Linked DNA regions of Homo sapiens. The protein of the gene in region 2 interacts with the protein of the main gene of each other region in a pairwise test. Each region holds a gene or a part of one and is shown on either strand. Other genes may lie near its edges.

What was found. Proteins that work in one complex are often made in the same cells at the same time.
Region 1: the proteins of CLIC6 (region 2) and DRD2 interact in a two-hybrid assay, tested with the Homo sapiens proteins (one study listed by BioGRID).

What each region holds. Positions count from the first base shown.
Region 1 is NC_000011.10:113,423,396-113,430,428, reverse strand, and holds part of DRD2 (D(2) dopamine receptor), read left to right. Parts: intron 1-5,746; 5' UTR 5,747-5,777; coding exon 5,778-6,062; coding exon of another isoform or gene 6,063-6,066; intron 6,067-7,033. UniProt on the Homo sapiens protein: Dopamine receptor whose activity is mediated by G proteins which inhibit adenylyl cyclase. Positively regulates postnatal regression of retinal hyaloid vessels via suppression of VEGFR2/KDR activity, downstream of OPN5.
Region 2 is NC_000021.9:34,713,981-34,718,743, reverse strand, and holds the end of CLIC6 (chloride intracellular channel protein 6), read right to left. Parts: intron 2,424-4,763; coding exon 2,262-2,423; 3' UTR 521-2,261; downstream 1-520. UniProt on the Homo sapiens protein: In the soluble state, catalyzes glutaredoxin-like thiol disulfide exchange reactions with reduced glutathione as electron donor. Can insert into membranes and form voltage-dependent chloride-selective channels.

The DNA.
Region 1 (7,033 bases), on a different chromosome or scaffold from region 2:
CAATGGATGACATCTTGGAGCTCTACTGGGGTTGGATGGCATTTTTTTCTTTCCTAGTGATATATAAAATAGTGGTGCATCTTCATTCGATTTTGTCTTAGAGTCTATGAAATGTGGTGATTAGTATGACAGTCATCGGCTATAGCAGCTGGGCTGGGAGAGCTGTATCTTCCAGGCCAGCTGCTACCTCATCTCAAGGGTCACTTGAGTTTGTCCTACAGCCAGGGCCCAGGGACAGGCTTTGTCTTTTCCTTCCTTTACTTCCTCCCAAGGAGTTGGTGGCTGCATCTTGAAATCCATCTCCCTTCATCTAGCCACCTATTTTTCAGGATGGGCCATAGGAGGCAGTGGGCCCAGGAGGACCTCAGACCCTAGTGAGCTGCATTTGAACAGCAACAGTCACTTCATCTTGCTGAGCCGTTGGCTTGTGGTCTGATTGCTTGTTTCATTTCATTCTTTTGCTTGGTTTGATTTTTAAAGTTGACATTCTCAAGGGCTTACCTGTGCCTGGCACATGGCCATGAGTCATCTTACTTAATACTCACAATTGTTGTTATCTCTATTTTGTGTATGGGAAAACTGGGCTCAGGAAAGCCAAATAATCTGGCTGAGGCCCCAAAGTTAGTAAATGGTAGAGTTGGGACTTGAACCCAGGTTTTTTAGTCCTCAACTCGAATGTTATACTAGCACCTCTCAGGCTAGAGTACCTTCTCTGTGGCAGTGGATTTGCTGATGTCTGAATTCCTGCTCAGCTTGATGTTTACATGGTGAGAGCCAGCTAGGCTGCCCCTGCTTGTGAGAGGTGAAAGCCCCAAGTAGATAAGGTGCTGAAGACACGATAGAAACCAGGACTGACACCAGGTGTTAAAAGATAGCCCTGTACTGGCCGGGTGCGGTGGCTCACGCCTGTAATCCCAGCACTCTGGGAGGCCGAGGCAGGCAGATAATGAGGTCAGGAGATCGAGACCATCCTGACTAACACGGTGAAACCCCGTCTCTACTAAAAATACAAAAAAATTAGCTGGACATGGTGGCGGGCACCTGTAGTCCTGGCTACTCGGGAGGCTGAGGCAGGAGAATGGCGTGAATCCAGGAGGCGGAGCTTGCAGTGAGCCGAGATAGCCCCACTGCACTCCAGCCCGGGTGACAGAGCAAGACTCCATCTCAATAACAAAAAAACCCCCAAACAAGCAAACAGACAAAAAGATAGCCCTGTACCAAGGTACTTATAGGGGTTACAGGTATTTAGGCATTTGCCATGTTTTCCCTTTTTTTTCCTATGGTGTAAATATACTACGTTTGTATTAGCAACAAAAAGCAACGAGAACAACCAATAATAAATAATAGATTAGAAAATCAAATGTGTGAGGCCTTTCTCAGAACTTGGGTACAGGGACTCTCCCTTACCCTGCAGAAGTAACCAGCACTCCAGAGAATGAATGCTCACCCTCAACCCCACCTGACCTGCAGTGCTCACATTTGCCATCTACATTGTACTCATAATTTTAAATCCTAGACTAGTGCCTGTAATCCCAGCACTTTGGGAGGCCAAGGCAGGAGTATCTCTTGAGGCCAGGAGTGTGAGACCAGCCTGGGCAACATAGTGAGACCCCCATCTCTACAAAACATTTTTAAAAATTAGCCAGGCATGGTGGCACATGCCTGTATTTCCAGCTACTCAGGAGGCTGAGGTGGTAGGATCACTTGAGGCCAGGAGTTGAGGCTGCAGTGAGCTATGATTGTGCCACTGCACTCCAGCCTGGGTGGCAAAGTGGGATTCTGTCTCTATTAAAAAAAAATTAAATCCCAGTTTACATCCTCCCTCCTCCAGGAAGTTCTCCACAAACGCCCCAGCCACACACATGTGCATATGCTCCTGAACATCAACTGTAGTGGACACGGTGGAGTGCCACCCAGATCCCCCTGCAGGACCACAGCCCTCATCCCCATCTACTGGGAGTGTTGGCAACTGACAGTTTTTGGCAATTGCCCACTGCTGAGGAGAGATGCCTCTTTCAAGGCCTCGCTGCTTTCCCTGGGACAGCCAGAAGCTGTGACATCTATGAGAGGGGATTAAAGGCCCTACCCTGTTGCCCTCATTTAGGCAACTGGCAGGGTGCCCTGTGGGGTCACCTGATGCCTTTCTTGTGACTTCTCCCTCTGGCCTGTCCTGCTTCCTCACTTCTTTGCACATCTTGATCCTGAGAGCATTCCCCTGTACATTTCCTGCAGGCTGATTTCCTCTTCAGAGTCTACTTCTAGGGACCTGTATTAGTCTGCTCTGGCTGCTATGACAAAATTCCACAGATTGGGTGGATTGAACAACAGAAATCTGTTTCCTCATAGTTCTGGAGGCTGGGACGTCCCAGATCAAGGTGTCAACAGGGCTGATTTTGCTTAAGGCCTCTCTCCATGGCTAGCAGATGGCCGCCTTCTTGCTGCATTCCCACTTGGTCTCTCCTCTGTGCGCGCATCCCTGATGTCTCTTTTTATGTCCAAAGCTCCTCTTATAAGGACTCCAGTCAGATTGGGTTAGGGCCCACCCTAAGCGTCTCATTTTAACATAATCAACTCTTTAAAGGCCCTGTATCCTAATACAGTCACATTCTGAGGTACTGGGGGTTAGGACTTCAACATATACATTTTGTGGGTTGGGGGAAGAGCATAGTGCAGACTGTAACAGGACCCAACATGCAGCACCTATGGCACCCTTGGGGTGCCTTACTTTTTCATCACTTGTTAATCTGGTAGCCTATGTTAGCAGGTGCCTTTCAAGTGGGAAGGGGTTTTCTTCCCAGTTGCACTAACAGAGCCTTTGATTCAGTTCAGCAAACATCTGTTGAATACGTACTGCCCACAAACCAGAGTCAAGAGTTGGGAAAGAACAAGATAGTATGGTTTTTATTTGTTCATTCCAAGAACAAGAGGAGGAATGAGCAAGACATGTTGTAACTCTTGTGATGTCTACACCCCAGTGAAAAAAAGAGACTCCTAAACAGGTGTCTCCTGCAGCACTGGGGTGTGTTTCAGTGCTGCAGGACCCTGAGGAGGGTGGGTGATGGCTCAGGCAGGAGGATATGGGTGGATTCTAAGACAGGAGGATTCTAGGCAAGACTCACTTTGAAGGATGCATAGGGACTGGAAAAGCAGAGGGAAGGGAAGTGAACAGAAGAGTTTTCCAAATCCCTTTCTTATTAAAGTAGGGATAATAATTAGACAAGATCAAGCATGTTCCAGGTAGTATGGCCATAGACAGGGATAATAATTAAAAGCCTCCGAGGGTTGTTTTGAGGATAAATGAGACAGTATATCCAAAAAACTTAGCAAACTATCAAACCCTTTACAAGTATATGATGCTATCATCAGCAGCAGGGAGTGGGGGGAGAAGAAGAGAGCGATGGTCAGGATGGGGGCAGTAAGTGTGCCTCACACGCCTCAGGCCCCTGACACTGCTTTGCACAGTGCTTTATGCCCAGCAGGTTCAATAAATGCCGATTGAGTAAATGAATGTCAGAAGCAGCCCCAGGCACCTGATCAATACATACATGCAGGCCTCCCGCTGTGGGCTCCAAATGGGAAGAGGGCTCAGTTGGTTTTGCAGAATACAGCATCAATATGACATATGCTTCATTACCTTAGAACAGGAAGATTTGCTGCGTGGTGGCATTCCATGTCACCCCACATGGAATTAGGCACTTTGCTTTTCCCCGAGGCTCCAGAGTGATGGTGGTTGGTAGGACATGATCCATATTCTTCTACTAAAGCTGGAAGAGTGGGTGTGTCAGACAGGGATGAGAGTGTGGAGATTGGGCAGACCCTCTTCCACCATCCTCTCTGACCCATTGCTGGAGGTGTGCCCTGTTCATTGATTGGACATGGCACCACATTCATCCCAAATGGCATCAATTGGTGGTTTTCAATTTGCAGTAGCAAAGTACCTGGAAGTCATGTGCTTTGTATGAAACACCTTGGAATGCTGATAAGTTTAATTCTATTCTGTAAAAGAGGAAGACTTTTGTTAGCTGAAAAGCCAACTATATTATCCATGCATTATGCTTCAGTCACAACCAAAACTCCGGCTGTCAAGTTCATCAACTCCTGATGCCTCCCAAGTCTGCTCCTGAGCCCCTCTGGTCCCTTTTCTCTGTGAATATGCGACACCAGCCTCCCAGAGCCCCACGCAGAAATCCTAGCATTACCCTCAACTCCTTATCTCCCTGCTTGTCCCATACCCACTTTTGCCCCACACCTATCCAAGGACCAAGGACCATGAAATTGACTTGCAGTTTAGCTCCTAATTCTGAACAGGTCTCTCCATCCTCGTTTCCACTATCTTCGTTCAGATGACCACAATTTCTAACCTAAATTACAGCCAAAACATCACTCTCCTCTGAGCTCTCTTCTACACCATACACTTTCTAGAACACCAGTCCAATAGGGTCATGTCTCTGGGCCCAACCTCTCAGGGACTCTCCAGCTGACAAGACACAATCTGGCCTGTAAATGTCCCTGCAGTTTAATTATCCTCAACGTTACTGCCATACCCTACATTTTTGGCCAAACAGAATTGTTTGCTGTTTGATGATTTGATACCATGTCATATTGTCTGTCTGGAACATCCCCCCACCCCTCTCATTTAGCAGGCTAAGTCCTCCTTCTACTTCATCCCAGATGATACCCACTTCAGGAAGTCTTTCCCTTCTGTGGGATGAGATGCCCATTCTGCAGGGCTTTCACTCCCTGCATCCTGCCAAACCTCATCATCTCTTACCTGGATTCCTGCTACAGCCTCCCAGTTGGTGTCCCGCTTCCACTCTGGGCCCCTCCTCTCCGTTCTCCACAGTGCTGTCAGAATCACCTATTCGAAAGGCGAATCTGATCATGTGGTTCCTGCTGCCCTTAGGATCATGTATAAACTCCTAGCATGACTTTTAAGGCCCTCTATGATCTTGCCTATTGCAACCTCCCCAGACTCAACCCTTGCCAGGTCCCTCTGCATCAGCTATCCAGAATCTCTTTGAGGCCCTCCACCTGCTGTCTACCTCTCTACCTCTGTGCTTTGCATATACTGCTTCCAATGTCTAGACCTTCTGCTGACTCCTAGTTCTTTACCTGGCTAATTCCTACACATCCTTCAGTTGTTTGTCTGTTGAACATCACTTCCTCTAGAAAGCCTTCCCTGAATACCTGAACTAGGTTATGTATCTCTCTCCCTGTTCCATTTCCTACTCCCTATCACCCTTAGATGTAATTGCTTGATTAATTGGCTGTTGTTTCTCCTAGAATGTGAGCTACAGAACCATGTATATTTTGTTCCTGCCTATATTTCTAGAACTATATAGAACAATGCTTAATAAATATTTATAGAATCAAGAATGAATGAATACCCATTTCTGTTTCGATGACTAGAAGGTAGCAAGCCTGGTTAACTGAAGTGTGTGGTGCATGGGTCGTGCTTAAGAAGTGTTTGTTGAATGAATAAATAAATGATGGATCAGCTCTGTTCAAGCTCATCTTATTATGCATTTTTAAAAAATTGTGTTTGCTCATTTGTCCTACCAGCTGTAAAAACTTGCTAGCAAAAGAGTGGCAGAAGGCCCAACATTTTTAGAAAATTCTTAGCCGTAAACCTTAAAATCCCGAGTTGGAAAATTCTCATTATTAAATGCCAGGAGTTGGTCTTCTTCCTGGAGACCTCTGCAAGAGGCCCTCTCACTGACACCTTGTGTCCATTTTTCCTGGCCAGAGCCTGGCCACCCAGTGGCTCCACCGCCCTGATGGATCCACTGAATCTGTCCTGGTATGATGATGATCTGGAGAGGCAGAACTGGAGCCGGCCCTTCAACGGGTCAGACGGGAAGGCGGACAGACCCCACTACAACTACTATGCCACACTGCTCACCCTGCTCATCGCTGTCATCGTCTTCGGCAACGTGCTGGTGTGCATGGCTGTGTCCCGCGAGAAGGCGCTGCAGACCACCACCAACTACCTGATCGTCAGCCTCGCAGTGGCCGACCTCCTCGTCGCCACACTGGTCATGCCCTGGGTTGTCTACCTGGAGGTAGGTGGGCCCCCTGCTTGCTCCAGCACTTTCTCCAGCAGGGCCCTGCACTGGACACTGGGGACTCTAGCTCCCCACTGGCTTTTACCAATGAGTTTCCTGGTGCTTCCCCAGGTGGTTTTTCCTTCACTCTGGGCTTACTTTTTCTCCTTACGAAATGGGTAGATTGTTTCCTTAATAATCCCAACTACCATTTGTAAAGTGCTTACTAAGTGCTGGGCCTCACGTAGGGACTTTAAATATAGCATTTTCCTATATAACCCTCACAGCAGCTTAGAGGCTGGCATTATTGCCACCATTTTGCAGTTGATAAACCAGGTGGTCAGAGATGTTAAGTAACTGCTGCAGCATCACACGGCTGGCAAGTCCAAGCTGGAATTCTGGCCTCAGAGTTAGTTCCTTAGGTCATATTGGAAATAGGAGTAACCGGCAAGGATCCCCAAGGAGGGGCATGTTTATGCTCCCAGGCCCCTGAAACCTTCACTCCCATCTCCCCACTTCAGAAATGGGTCTGCTGCTTTATGCTCCCCATATCCCCTCTCCTTCCCACAGCTTATCCTGGGGCCCTGTCCAGGACCTGCAGGTAGAGGCTGCCATGGACTGTGCTGTAGCCCTTTTGTTAGGAAGAATTGTGTAGTCACTCATTTCTTGGCCCAGCTCTGCACCTCAAAATGGGGAGTAGGCAGCACAGTCTAGACACTGTGCCTGGTGCATTGCTGACACAGACCCAGTGAATACTCTTGGTAACCCTGGGAGTCCATGCTACTCTTCTCACTTTACAAAATAGGAAACAGGCCGAGCACGGTGGCTCACGCCTGTAATCCTAGCACTTTGGGAGGCCGAGGCAGGCAGATCACGAGGCCAGGAGTTCAAGACCAGCCTGGCCAACATGGTGAAACCCCATCTCTACTAAAAATGCAACAATTAGCCAGGTGTGGTGGCATATGCCTGTAATCCCAGATACTTGGGAG
Region 2 (4,763 bases):
TATTTTATTTTATTTTATTTTATTTTATTTTATTTTATTTTATTTTATTTTATTTTGTTTTTCATTTCATTTCATTTCATTTCATTTCATTTCATTTCATTTCATTTCATTTTGAGACAGGGTCTCACTCTGTTGCCCAGGCTAGAGTGCAGTGGTGTGATCTCAGGTCACTGCAACCTCCACCTCCCAGGCTCGAGGTATCCTCCCACCTCAGCCTCCCTAGTAGCTAGGACTACAGGTGCCCACCACCATGCCTAGCTAATTTTTGTATTTTTAGTAGAGATGGGGTTTCACCAGGTTGGCCAGGCTGGTCTTGAACTCCTGACCTCAGGTGATCTGCCTGTCTCGGCCTCCCAAAGTGCTGGGATTACAGACATGAGCCACTATGCCGGTATGCCAGGCCTGTCCTCACCATTTTAAAAGAAGCCCATACCATTCATTTTATTTCTTGAAACCTAAATGGAGAATGGGGAATGCAAAAAATAATAAAAAATAAAAAATAAAACCCAAAAGAAATTGGTTCCATTTAAACATTTTTATAATTTGTTTCATTTTCAAGGCACAAAGAGTTTATGTCAATCATTTTAATGTCTAAGAATACAAAGTTAGCACTAGTAACATCTGGTAGTCTAATCATTTATCATGCTTAAATGTAACATTACAAAACTACATTTTAAAATCTGCCCCCTAACCAGATGTGAAACAACGTGGACAAGGGTGACATGTGCTAGACCCAATCTCCAAAAACGTATGGTTGACAAAGACAGCTGACTGCTGGGGTAAAACTGCAGCAGTCATAATCGAAGAGCGAAAGAGGCCACTCTATTAAAGACTTTGTTTCTTTTGCTAGACATTTTTCACCTAATCCCAGGATAGTTTCTGTTAATGCATCTTACTCTCTTTCAAACGAATCGTCCCTAGAGCAGGTGTACACATTAAAAATGAGCTTTATAGCATCAAACACATACCACAACCAACTCTACAAGGAGGGTTTTCTGTAAGATGTGTACGACTGTCCGAAGAACACATTCTGGCTGATAAGTCTCAGCTCCTGTGAGGTCCTGATGAGTATCTAAACAACCTCACATTTTCTCTTCCACGCCTAGGGTTAAGGCCAGCACTCAGCCCACACACAAAGCTGTGATGAGAGGTTGGTTAGGGATGGTGGAGGCAAAGCCACAGATCAGCCAGAAACTCTTTTGAGTCAATAGTTTCTACTCCCTCCCTAACTGGACCGTTTACCAGAACTGCCCAGGACTTGTCACCATGAATTTAATCTCCCTGGATTTTCCCTGCTTGATGTCTAGATGAGACAATGAAGGGCAGAGAAGTATTGCTATCCCCACACGATACCACCAGCACTGAGGGACTGCAGCCTTGGGTCTCAGAGAGAGCCGCCCGGAGAAGGAACCAAAGTGTGCTTGGTTCACATTTCAGGGCAGGGAGGTTCTCCAAGTTGCAGCAGATATTAAGAGTCCTGCTGAAGGCACAGTCTCTAAGAGAGGGGAGGGAGCAAAGACAGGAAGCTGGAACCAGAGACACGGATAAGCACCCTCCCCCTTGCCTTTCCTGGAAGCAGAGGCAGTGGCATCCTGGAGGCAGAAATGAGGCAGAGTGGGGGTGACCCAGGGCTTCCGGTTCCTGCTGGTCATTGCGTGCGCATCTGTGGGCTTCACAATTCCCCACTCCTTAAAATCTAACCTCAAGCATCTTCTCTGGCACTGCGGTGCCCAATATTTTTGTATGGTGTAAGTCCTCTGTGTATGATCATCCAGGAATCACCAAGAGGTCCCCTCACCAGTGCTTTAAAATAAAATAATGCAATACCATATATGAATGAAATTGTGTGTGTGTGTGTGTGTGTGTGTGTGTGTGTGTGTGATAGAGAGAGAGAGAGAGAGAGAGAGAGAGAACAAGATACTGAAGATTTGGAACATGTTCTCCAGTAAGTTTTCGGTAATTAAGTGGAGTAAAATTGAAGGCGATTGTTAAAATGTCCTTCTTTACACCCTCTGATATTGCTTTAAAATATCAAGATAGGTGTGTCTCATTTTGTAATTACAAAGCAGTATTTTCATTTTGAAGAAAATTAAACTAATGTTTTAGAGAAGAAAAACAGGCTCTCAATGATTTAAAAAACTCTCAGAGACCAGTTTTTTAAAAATTGAAGGAATTGAACCCAAACCTAATTTGTTTTCAAACACACTGTTTTCGTATCCTTGCTCACTCAACTGAGAAATAAGACAGAAAACAGCCCAGCTTCATTTCATTCTTTTTGCAACATCTGAATATGCGTGTTCAATCTCTTGATCAGCTGGACACGTATTTGTGAACTCATCTCTAGCATAAGCATTATTCAAGTATCTCCAGATGCCAGTCATTTCAGAAGGAAATTCAAAATCTCTGTACTTCTTGGCCACAATCTGAAAATGAAGAGAAAATGATCAGTAAAGGGAAAACTTGCTAAGGTAGGCTCCCAAGTCAGACAGTCCATTCTTCTGAGGCATGCAATACATTCTTTCCCAGTTTCCCATGTCATCCCACAGTCATCCGGGCTACCCACCACGGCATCTTGACTTGCATAGGGCCATCTTGGGTGTGAGGAGGGCTATGAAGTTCCTGTACTCACTACAGTGACTGCACATAGTTCTGCCCACCAGTTTGTCACAGATGGGTCTTGGAATCCGCTGGCACGAGTATGCTCTGGACTCTGGTGGATTTCTCTTTGTGTTGCCTGTTACTTTCTTTCCATATGTTGTGCTACTGTGTTACTTGGTGCTATGTGAATAAAGACGCATGGTGGATCTGCTGTTTAAATGGTGCCCTCTCTTCTTCCTACTTGCTGAACCTCACTTCTCCAGTCCCAAACATCTGTGCATGTTAATCCTCCTGAATGCCATCATGCTGCCACTAAGAGCATCGTCTGATCGTGGGGCCCGCCTGTGCGGAGGAGAGATTCATGAACAAAGCAGATGCAAATCCCTACCCTCATGGGGATGGTGGGTGTAAGGAAGAAGCAGTCGAGAGACAGCACCAAGAGAAACACAGCAGTGTGAGATACTTCCTCTAGCAAGAGGGGTACAGTTGGGGAATTAGTCACAAAGATGTGCAGAACACTGGGGACTGTACCAGTTTGCTAGGGTTGCCATAATAAAGTAACACATGCTGGGAGGCTTAGAACAACAGAAGTTTACTGATTCCTAGTTCTGGGGGCCAGAAGTCCAAGATCAGGGTATCAGCAGGGTCATGGATCCTCTGAAGGCATTAGGGAAGGCTCTCTCTCCACTTCTGGCAGTGCCTTGGCTGTGCAAGCATAACTCCATCTTCACAGAGCCTTCTCCCTGTGTCTCTCTTTCCAAATTTCCCCAGTTTGCAACGATACTGGCCATCCTGGATTAGGTCCATCTCACTCCACGATGACTTTATTTTAACTAATTACATCTGCAAAGATCCTATTTTTAAATAAGGTCACATTCTGAGCTACTGGGGGTTAGGATCTCAACACAGGAATTGGGAGGAGGGCACAATTCAACCTGAAGTGGAGACCCAGAGCCATAAAGGCCAGTTGGGCTTTGCTGCCTCCTGTCCCACTGGTTCCCAGGATGTCTGCATGATGCAGGCATGGGGTTAATGAGAAGATCTTTGGGGCTTACTGCGCAGACTTTGGAGGCCAGCAGTCATTGATGCAATGTGACAGCAAAGAAGGACCATATAATTTTCAGAGAGCCTCCTAAATTGTTTGACACCTCTTCCTTGAATGCCAACTTCTTGATGCTCATGTTAAGAAGTCCGTTTTACTTTTGTTTGTATGTACCTGGTTTTTCTTTGCCCATCTTTTTATTTTAACATTCCTGAGTACATTGTTTAAGGCCATGCCTATGAACGTGACACTGAACTTGGTTTTCTTTCTTCTGTATGCATGTGTGTGTCCCTCTTTCTGGTCATTTAAAAGGTTTATGGTCATGTTAATTCTCCAGTGGTTTCCTACATAAATTTAAATATATAGGAATTCTCTATTTCTTGATTTATCAAGTTTTTTTTTTTTTTTTTTGTTTTTTTGAGACAGTCTCGCTCTGTCACCCAGGCTGGAGTACAGTGGAGGATCTCGGCTCACTGCAACCTCCACCTCCCAGGTTCAAGCGATTTTCCTCCCTCAGCCTCCCGAGTAGCTGGGATTACAGGTGTGCACCACCATACCTAGCTAATTTTTGTCTTTTTAGTAGAGACGGGGTTTCACCATTTTGCCCAGGCTGATCTCGAACTCCTGGCCTCAAGTGATCCACCCGCCTCAGCCACCCAAAGTTCTGGAATTACAGGTGTGAGCCACTGCACCCGGCCTTGATTTACTAATTTTAGATGCTGCCTGTTAACTCCTGATGATGACAAATGAGGGAATTTATGTATCTGTGCTTCTTTCCATTTCTTCTGTATTATCCTCCTTCCAATGGTGGTAATGACATAGTTTATTATATTCTGACTCTATTCTGTCCGTATAATTCCCACTGCTGTTTGGTCTTAGGACTAGTTTCAGATTTAAAGGGGTTCTCTGTTTAGGGCCTGTTCTTTTATTTCACACACCTTCTCTGTTTCTGGATTCTTACTTTGATTATGATTTTGTTATTTCATCATAGAACAATTTTATGTTTTTTAAAAAAGAGACCAGAGGTCTAGGTCAAAACGGTAATTGCCTAGATATAAAATTCTTACCTCATACATCATTTTCTTTAATTCTCTGTAGATGTTAAACCACAATTTTCTGATTT